Homo sapiens: one gene and its partner. The protein of the gene in region 1 interacts with the protein of each later gene in a pairwise test. Each region holds a gene or a part of one and is shown in the gene's direction. Other genes may lie near its edges.

The links. The genes of interacting proteins can lie anywhere in the genome.
Region 2: the proteins of MYO10 (region 1) and PELI2 interact in a two-hybrid assay, tested with the Homo sapiens proteins (one study listed by BioGRID).

The regions. Positions count from the first base shown.
Region 1 is NC_000005.10:16,694,591-16,699,876, reverse strand, and holds part of MYO10 (unconventional myosin-X), read left to right. Parts: intron 1-303; coding exon 304-427; intron 428-5,262; coding exon 5,263-5,286. UniProt on the Homo sapiens protein: Myosins are actin-based motor molecules with ATPase activity. Unconventional myosins serve in intracellular movements. MYO10 binds to actin filaments and actin bundles and functions as a plus end-directed motor.
Region 2 is NC_000014.9:56,124,099-56,129,384, forward strand, and holds part of PELI2 (E3 ubiquitin-protein ligase pellino homolog 2), read left to right. Parts: intron 1-5,286. UniProt on the Homo sapiens protein: E3 ubiquitin ligase catalyzing the covalent attachment of ubiquitin moieties onto substrate proteins. Involved in the TLR and IL-1 signaling pathways via interaction with the complex containing IRAK kinases and TRAF6.

The DNA.
Region 1 (5,286 bases):
AATTATTTGTGTGCTACCGTAAATCAGGCGTATTGCTTGTCAGTTGTTTTTTTTCTTTTTCCTTTTCCCTTTTTTTTTTTTTTTTTTTTTGAGACTGAGGCTTGCTCTGTTGCCCAGGCTGGAGTGCAGTGGCACGATCTCTGCTCAGTGCAGTCACTGCCTCCTGGGTTCGAGTGATTCTGCTGCCTCAGCCTCTTGAGTAGCTGTATTTTTGTATTTTTTCAATGATGATACATGCTGGGTATCTTCGTGGCTTGCTTTGTGGCCTTTTCCCTCACCGTTGGCTTCTCTCTCTCGGTCCAGTTTGAAGATAGTGAAGAGGACTTTGATTCCAGGTTTGATACAGATGATGAGCTTTCATACCGGCGTGACTCTGTGTACAGCTGTGTCACTCTGCCGTATTTCCACAGCTTTCTGTACATGAAAGGTATGACTGCAGCCGCCATGGAGTCTGGGTTAGGGGGAGAGCGAGGCGTTATTTTATCCGGGCTGATGGATGGCGGTGGGAAATAACGGAGGTGTTATTGTATCTGGGCTGATGGATGGGGACTGGGAAAGTCGTTCTACCTACCCTTACCTCAGTGTTGGGCCACTTAGATGAATGAAGGGACACCTTGTCATGTTGGTGTGACATGGGTGCTGTGGTCCTACCAGCATGAACACAGTCGTGACTCCCCTGGTTTGGTGCAGAGTGGCAGGACGAAGCATTTGCAACCACTGCCTCCAGTATCAGTCCTTCTCCCCTGTCTCTCCCTGTCTCGTTTTCCTTTCTTAGCTCTTTCTTCATCCTTCTATTTTCTCTCCCTCTCTCTCCCACTTTCTCTTTCACTGTCTCCCTCTCTGTCTCAGTCTCATTGCTCTCTCTCATATATACAGACATACAAACCAATGTGTGTGTTGCTGCTGCTGCTGGAATTGGTCGAGACCCATTCTCATGATAAACTGCATGTTCTCGGCCGGGCGTGGTGGCTCACGCCTGTAATCCCAGCACTTTGGGAGGCCGAGGCGGGTGGATCATGAGGTCAGGAGATCGAGACCATCCTGGCTAACACAGTGAAACGCCGTCTCTACTAAAAATACAAAAAATTAGCCGGGAGCGGTGGCGGGCTCCTGTAGTGCCAGCTACCTGAGAGGCTGAGGCAGGAGAATGGCGTGAACCCAGGAGGCGGAGCTTGCAGTGAGCCGAGATCGCGCCACTGCACCCCAGCCTGGGCGACAGAGCCAGACGCTGTCTCAAAAAAAAAAAAAAAAAACTGCATGTTCTCTCCTGCCAGGGATATTAGAGAGCCTAAAAGGATGTGCTAGACATGGGGGAAAGTGAAGATCTCACTGAGGCCCACTGCTGGCTTGAACTGCTCACCATACCTACTTCATGATGAGCATTTGCATTGTATGCTTTGATTGTTACTAACATTTGAGTATACTTTGCTGAACCTTAACACTTAGGGGCCTTGAGGCACACTCCTTTTGGAAAATTATTTACTATTTATTTATCTATTTATTTAGGTATTTATTTAAGACAGGGTCTTGCTCTGTTACCCAAGCTAGAGGGCAGTGGTGTGGTCATGGCTCACTGCAGCCTTGAACTCAGGTTCAAGCCATCTTCCTGCCGCAGCCTTCATAGGAGCTAGGACTGCAGGCGCACACCATCATGCCAGGCTAATTTTTTATAGAGATGGAATCTCACTATGTTGCCCAGGCTGGTCTCCAACTCTTGGCCTCAAGCAGTCCTCCCACCTTGGCCTCCCAAAGTGCAGGAATTGCAGGCATGAGCCACCATGCCTAGCCAGAAAATTATTTAATTATTTAATTGGGACCTCATATTTATGCTTTGTTCCTGTTCTTGACTCTGACTCGTAACTCAGTGACAGGGATAATAAGAAACCATAATCATCACCAATTTTGGGCAGGAGTTTTACGTGGATGGTTAAAAAGAAGGGACCGTCCTGTTTCTCGCATGGACCTAGACTGGAGAGGGGAGAGAGTCGAGAAGGTGGAGATGGGCAGGGATATGAGAACCTTCCTCCCCAGGTCTCCTCTTCCTGCTTTCTCCCATATTTGATTTTTAAATTTGTCTTCTTCCTTTTTCTTCACTTTCCTTTTTATTGCCGTCTTTCTTCATTTACATTTACATTTTCTTTTTTTTGTCTTCACCACCATGAAAACCTTTTTTTTTTTTGAGACAGGATCTTGCTCTGTTGCCCAGGCTGGAGTGCAATGGCACAGTCGTGGCTCACTGCAGCCTCCACCCCCGGGGTTCAAGTGATTCTCCTGCCTTAGCCTCCTGAGTAGCTGGGATTACAGGCACACGCCAATGCCCAGCTAATTTTTGTATTTTTAGTAGAGACAGGGTTTCACCATGTCGGCCAGGCTGGTCTCGAACTCCTAACCTTGTGATCTGCCCTCCTTGGCCTCCCAAAGTGCTGGGATTACAGGAGTGAGCCACCGCGCCCAGCCATGAAAACCCTTTTATTCCATTTTCCCTTCTTTCTTTCTGTGCTTCTCTTTTCTGTTAGCTTCTTTACGTTTTTTTCCACGTCTTTTCTTTTGTTATCTTCAATATTTTTTTTCTGTTTTCTTCACTTGTGGCTTTGTTTGCTGGATTCCTTTTTTGCTTCACCTGCTCCTCTTAGAAAACATGGGTCTAGTGACGACTGTCAGTCATTTGCCTTTCAGAGTTCTGCCATCCTCAGCTTTGGAGCCCCACAGTGCTCATGAAACCCCTAGAAGGTTTGGTTTAGGGGAGACTTTTAGTAGGACTGTTGGAATGAAAAACATCAAGGGTGAGGTAGCCAGCACTGGAACACCTGACAAAGGAAAAAATGTCATTGCAAATCAGAACCTTTGATCCAATAAGTATTTAATCATAGCATCTTAAGATTTTCTCAGTTAGAAATCATCTTAACTGTTTTTACTAATATATAATTCCCATTCCTCAATTTTTAATTCCCTAAGTTAATTTGAAAATTCTCTTCAATATTCCTCTTAATGTATGACATTGATTTTTTTTTTTTTTTTTTTGAGACAGAGTCTCGCTCTGTCACCCAGGCTGGAGTGCAGTGGTGCGAACTCGGCTCACCACAACTGCCGCCTCCCAAGTTTGAGCTATTCTTCTGGCTCAGCCTCCTGAGTAGCTGGGATTACAGGCGTGCGCCACCACGCCTGACTAATTTTTGTATTTTGAGTAGAGACGGGGTTTCACCATGTTGGCCAGGCTGGTCTTGAACTCTTGACCTTGTGATCCACCCGCCTCAGCCTCCCAAAGTGCTGGGATTACAGGCGTGAGACACCACGCCCGGCAGCATTGATTTATTATACAGTTACTGGATTAAAACCAGTAAGAGTAGGAAAAAAGTAAAGACACATTCAAAGTATTAAAATCAGGGTCAAAGAAGTTAAATGGGTGAGTTTTCGGCATCTCTTAAAGCTATTGTGTAAATGCAGCCTCATTTAATACTTAATAAAACTTTAATTAAAGCAGAGCCAAAAAGTTTCAGAGCAACGAATGAATGAAAAAGAAAATCTAATCACCAATTTATATTTTATGGGCATAAATAAATTTTTACAACCAAATAACCTACTAAAGATGTTTGCAATTAGGAAATTATAGCATTAAGTGATTCTCTAAATGATGAATTATCAAGAGAGGGCCTGAAATTGCAAAGGGAGGGCCAAGAGTGAGTGCTATCAATAAATAAATAAATAAATCTAATTAATCAATTAGATTAAATAAACTAATGGTGAGAGCTGTCGTGATGACTCTTCTAATCTTTGAAACAACTGTGAATAAGCTTTATCATTTAACAACAACAAGATAATAGAATAATTTTGCACAGTTTTCCTCCAGGCTTGTTTTGAGAAACCCAGATTAAAGTCACAAATCAAAACACTAATAATGTTTCATTCTGGTAGCCGTTGGCAAGTTTGCCATATGTTAGGACACGGCTCTGCAGCTTGGCACAATTACCAAAGATGTCTCAGCTAGATGAGCAGGGGCCTCTTGGACAAAAGGAGGGAGAGGAGTCTAGAAAGTTCAGTGAAGCAAGTGCACTGTCTGGTTTTCACACAGTGAACGCATAAAAGGATAGGATTATACTTACTTTAAATATCCCATGTTTAAATGACCCTTATTTTCATTACTGGTTGGTCAAAAGAAAATAATGTGTGGACAGTCTTATAATAACAGATGTGTGTCAGATGTTGATCTTGAGCAGGTTGGGGAATCTGGAATACAAAATTATCCTCCCTGAAGAGCATAGCAAGATTTTTTTATCCTATGAAAGATAACATCTGTATATTTAAGTTCAAATCTTAGTGTAGTTTGTACTCTTGCTTTCTTTTTTTTTTTTTCATAGTCTCAGTCTTATACCTGTAAACCATTTTCAGATGATGCTTTTCTTTGAAAAGATGTTTTTCTCCAAAAAGCCATATTGTCTTTACCTGTGTAAGTTAGACTTTATCAGTCAACCCTGGAATCACTGATAATTCTTGTTCGCACATTGACCAAATATGGAAGGAAATGGGTAAACTTTGTTTATTTTTTGAGACGGAGTCTCACTCTGTCACCCAGGCTGGAGTCTAGTGGTACAATCTCTGCTCACTGCAACCTCCTCCTCCCGGATTCAAGCGATTGTCCTACCCCAGCCTCCCAAGTAGCTGGGATTACAGGCACGCACCACCATACCCGGCTAATTTTTGTATTTTTAGTAGAGACAGGGTTTTACCGTGTTGGCCAGGCTGGTCTTGAACTCCTGACCTCAAGTGATCCACCCGCCTCGGCCTCCCAAAGTGCTGGGATTACAGGCATGAGCCACCGCTCCTGGCCCAAAAAACGGGTAAAGAAACTGGTAAACTTTGACACCATGTTAAAATAATTTTCCCTCTCTGGTGCATTTTGGGATAAGCCTGATCCATACATAGGGACATGGTTCTCACCCTTGGCTTTTGACTCATTCCTGGGTTAGAGTGTCAGTTCATTACTTGCTTTTCTATTGGCTCCTTTCAAAGCTTTCTCAGCTAAGTGAGCAGGAACTCCTTTGGATAGAAGGATTCTTGTATAATCCAGCCTGGCTGGTGTGACATCTGTGTGGTGCCCCCAGACATGAGCTAGCAGTGCCACTCCTCACTGAGGGGTCTCTGCGGTGCTGCGGCTGGGGCAGAGTCTAAGCTCGGCTAGACCTTAACACCTGCTATGCATGTTGTTGTCATCCAACTTGACTGACTTTTCTTTCACCCCTCTCTACCCAATCTCACGGGGAACAGGTGGCCTGATGAACTCTTGGAAAC
Region 2 (5,286 bases), on another chromosome or scaffold:
AGTTATTAGTTCTTACTGAGCTTATTGTCACCTTCATCTTCTGGAAAATAAAATAATAAGAGCAGAAAGTGCTTCATATTTCTTAGCTTTGTCTAAATCACCTGTTCTCAACCACTGTCTCAAGTACCTCATATGTGATGATCAGTCTTGAGGGTATGTGGCCAGTAATTTATGACAAGTAATAAAGTGTGGATCTTTCAAATGATTCAGATATGTCATGTTAATAATGTCATTTTTCACCCTTTTGCATTCTGATGTGTTTTCTCAAGTGGGAGAGAAAGGGGTGGAGTTACATCAGGCAAGCCAGGAATGTATGCATTCAGCAAATATTTATTGGCTGTCTACTCTTCCAGGCATGAGGAATACAGCTAGGACAAGGCAGACACATTCCTTTTCCTGGTGAACTGCTCTCTTATTTTTGTCCCAGCCTCTTTGTGAATAACCGTTACTGATACATGGTTCATTTATTTATTCCCCAAATATTTGAGCATCTGCCACTTGTCAGATGCTGTGGATTGCACTAAGGGATACGCAGATGAACAAGACAGTCATGGTCCCTGCTGCTGCAGCACTGACAGCCTAGCTGGAAGACCTGAAGGCTGGGATGGTGGATGTGTTAGCAGGGTCCCCTAGCCATGTGCCAGGATGAGATGGGGATGACCACGATGGAGATAAGAGGGAAGGAGTGCTTTCCGAAGAAGGTTTGGAGTATTCTGCAACCTAGAGATGAAAACGTGCAGCTACTTTGAGGAACAGAGAAACACTCTTTATGGCTAGGAAAGAATGATTGAATGAAACATTGTGAGGGATGATGATGGGGGGATATCATGAAGGGCTTATAAGATATTGGAAGGGGTTTGGACTTTACCCTAAGAGCACAGGAGACTGTCTCAGGGTTTTGCTAGTATGAGATGGGAGTGAAGAAAGCCCTCTGCTCTTTGCAGAGTGGAGTTGGAAGGCACAGTGGAGTTGGAAGGAGAAACTGAGGCTGCAGCCCAACAAGGCAGAGAGAGAATGGAGTGTGAGCTAGAGGGCAGCTGTCTTGCTTCTAGTTCCTGGTTCGGGTACCTCCTGAGACCTAGTTTCGTGTGATTGACCATTCATTCAGTGACTCAAGATACTGACTGAGGACCAGCACTGCTCCCAGCCCTGGGCTACACCAGCAAACAAGACAGACAGCTGCCCTTCCTGCCTGCTTGGAGCTTACCTTTTTTTGAGAGAGGTGAGCAAGCAAAGGAGTAGATAAAAAATGGAACTTCAGAGACTGCTGGGAGGAAACTAAAGCAGGATAAGGAGGAAGAGAGTTATTGGGTGGGCAGGGGGGGGGTGAATTGGCAGGGTGAAATGCTAGGGATAAGGTAGTGGGGGATCCTTTTGGACAAAATAATCAGGAAAAGCTTTTCCGAGAAAATAGTCCTGTGTCCTTTGAGAGTCCCCACTTCTTTCGGTTTTTACTTACTTTTTTTTCTGTTTAAGCCACCTTGAGTGGGTTCTGCTCTTTCAATCAGAAGATTCCAAGTATCCCGTTAAGAGGCAACGTATATAAGCAATTTACTGAAGGGAAAAATAGAAGTGTAAACAAATACAAGGGCAGATAGTTAAGTATCCCTGGACAAAAACGTGGTTCTGCCCTCTGTGCTGCTTGCCATGTGCCCAGAGTGGCCATTGAATTCCACCAGAGCGTATTGCCCCTTGAGGGTAGGAACCTTGACTTCCCCCCTCCTTGGAATGCTGGGCTTCCCTTTCTGGTGCATGTTAGGTACTCACTGAGCCTCTTGGAGAAATGGATTTCTGTGGCACACCCTAGTTTGCCACCCCACATGGAGATGTGGCCAGGGCTTAGTGAATGTTTCTGGACTTGGAAGGAGCACTCTGCTTCTGTAGCACAACTGCAGTTTTGTAAACAATCCTACCAACCTTTAGGGCCCAAGTCAAAGTTTCCCTGAGAAACTAAACATGTGCTTTACTGACATCAGATATTCCAGTTTCAACTTTTGTTTGTTTTTCTTTTTGTCAGTCACCTAGCAGTCATGTTGTCACCTGCAGAAAGTCCTGCCTTGAAGGGAAGCAGGCCATCTGTTCTGATTCCACCAGCTGCTCGGAGCTGCATTGCAGTGCGCCACAGTGGCGTTGAAAGGCTGTGGTCATTAATGCCTATTAATGATGGCTGGAAATACTGTGGCATACAAGCCTCTTGGATGACAGACCTAATAAATATGCATCAGGGGGCATTTTCAGCAGCAGGTTTAAGGCTATTGCGAGTCATTCTCGATTGAGGTTTTCTTTCTAGCCATCCGCATAATGCTTCTCACTCTCAAACACTTCACTCTGCTTATCCCTGCTTTTCTGCTCATGCAGAATCTGTTTTTAGGATAAGAAATCATTGTTTCAAGCTTTGTACTTCCATTCTTATTAGTACTGGTTTAACAGAATTTAACCAGAGCGAGCAGTTGTGTGTTTGGCTTCTAGGCTATTGGTATAAAACGGCTGATCGTGATTACCAAGTGCCTCGGAGGACCTCGGTGGCCCCCCTCCTTTCCCATCTTGTGCTTCCTGCTCCATGATTATAGAACACTAATTATAATCAGAACTGGTGATGGGTGAGCAATTAGGCTTTTCTGGACTGATGATTGATTGATGGATTGATTGATTGATTGCGTTGGGGAAAGGCCCTTCCTGCGGAAGGATTGTAGACACAAAGGAGTGTGCTTTCACACCAGATCCCAGAAAATTATGCTGACTAGATCCTTGATGTAGTACATAAGATTACATTATGGTTTGGGTACTTTCATCACATGCTGTGGATAGAATTCAAAATGCAACCTGACAAGACTGATAGGAAATAAATTCATTAAGTTTTTATTGAGTTGTTTTTTGTCTCCTCGGGTTGTTGATCATTCTAGTGAGCACAATTTCAGCCTTTTTGATGAGTTATTCCAAACATTAAGTACTGTACGGTTTGAAAATCTTAGCTAACAAAAGCATTTTTGGAGTGGCTTTATAATTTATAAGTCATCTGCAAGTCTTTTTGCATTTGTTAATCTCCAATATTATCTGAAATTTGTTGAGAGCGTGGCAGTTGAAGAATAGCCTAGCTTACTGAGAACCATGCTTCTGGCAGACTGGAACATAAGCAGCTTTCACCCAGGAGAGCTAATGCATGACACAGATTTTCAAGCTTTTAAAGGTCACCTGACATGAAATAACAGAACTAACAGAGATTCGAGTAGGTGGGGTAATCTATACAAGCATCCTGCAGGTACAGGATGGTGGAAGGACCAGAAGAATGTTTTAACACTGCATTTGGGTGGTTAAAGGACAGGATGAAGAGCTCATTTATATTGGTTGTACCTGTCTGTGACTGTCGGCAGTAAGAAGGTAGTACAGTTCCTGAAATACTTTATGTCTCCTCCACACCATGGAGAACAGTTCTGTGTTGGTGAGAAGCAAGCCAAGGCAGAAGATGGCTCTTGTGTGGTGCAGTTTACAAAAGAGAGACAAAATTTGATAGCAGCCACTGCTGCCAGCCACCTGCACAGCACTCAGGGTTGGGAGAGCTACAGGCCTAGAATCCACTGGTTACTGCCTCCAGATTGAACACTTTGCCATAGAAAGAAAATGAAAACATTCCTCTAGTAGCTAAAGTGAACGTAACTTCTGAAATTTCCCCAGATTCTGTTTGGGGAATTTTAGCATTTTTCATTTCTAATGAGAGGGACTAAAAGATGTGAAATCAAAACTTTTGCATTCAAAATTGATCAACTGAGTGTAAAAGAAATTTAAATAATTGAACTTCCAGATGATGTTAAGTCTGTTGCTTTTATAATTTTGTTGTTTTTAAAGCTTAAAATTACACTAAGAATTTTGAGATGCATGTGTGTATGTATATATTTTATTGCATGTGTGTTCTGCATGGGTATATTAAAAATGGGATTCATTGATCCTGCACATGGACCCCTGAACTTTAAGATGAAGAAAAAAAAATGGGATTGCCTGTACATACTAGGAATTAAGCACTATCTAAACATACACACTAAACACTGATCATTCAGTTTGTGTTAGGTGATGCTGTTGTTGCTGTTTTACGAGGCTGATTTCACTTCAGAGGACTAGGGGTGGTGGAGCCTACATAAGGAAATGCCCCCCAGGGGTACACAGTCTAAGGGCAAGACAGATGACTTAGCAACAAATCATTAATTAGGGTGTAGCGGGATGGTGGGCGAGAGCTCTGGGCATACTATATGCCAGGTTCCGTTAGGTGGTTTACATTATCCTTTCCAGGAGTTCAAATTTATTATCTGGGCAATGAGGCTCCAGCTTAATGACTTGTCCAAGCTCACTCCCCTAGTTAGTGGGAATCTGATTAGAAGGTAGGTCCTTGTGGCTCTCTTGCTTGATTATTTCCACCAGGGTGAAGGTGAGAGGCATGTGTATTGCTGGGAGATTGGGAAAGATTTCCTGGGGCAGTTGGCCTTTAGCAGAGCCTTGAGAGGTGACCTGGGTTTTTTATAGAGCAGTGGTAGTAAAAGCATGGCGATTTTGGAACCTTGAGGGGTATGGCTGGAGGCTGAAGTACTTGGGGAGGGAGGTGAAGTTGGAAAGTCAGGTTGGGGTATTGTTGGGGTATTGAAATATTTGGGCTAGGGTTATAGTAGGTAATCTCAGAGTGGTCCCTGCCTTCATGGAGCTTACAGTCCATCAAGAAGGAAGCCCTTTAAGCAAACCTGGCAAGGTGCTGCCAAGGAGAAGTACAGGGTTTCGTGTACAGTAGGGGACAAAATTTGTTTTTGGGGGAGGGCAGGTTTTTGTGGGGAGGGAGGGAATTCTATGTCAGCAGAGGTAGAAAGGGTGAGTTAGCTAAGGGTTAGCAAGGGGAAAGCAGAGTACCTGAAGGCACATCGAGAGGTTGAGGGGCTGAGAGGCTGAGGGATATCCAGTGCCTTTGGAATTGAAGGGGTGAGAGGGCCTTTGTGATGAGAGAGACTTGAAAGGAAGGACCTGGGCCCAGTAAAGGCTGTGGCCTCTGGGAGGGGGAAGCCCTGCTAATAACATTTCAAGGCATTATTGCAGACTCTAGGTAGCAGGCAGTGTCAGCCTTCTGAGTAGGTTAGTGAACTAATCCTTAGGACCCAGTCTTGCTTGAAATCTCCAAATAGGCTTGTTTTCCCTTTTGTAATTCATTTCCCTCCTACCTTTGTCTCTCTTCCCCTGCCAAAGAACAGTTGCTCACAATGGGCGTAGCCCCCTTCTGTGCGATGGCAAGGGTGAGGTGAGATAACGTGATCC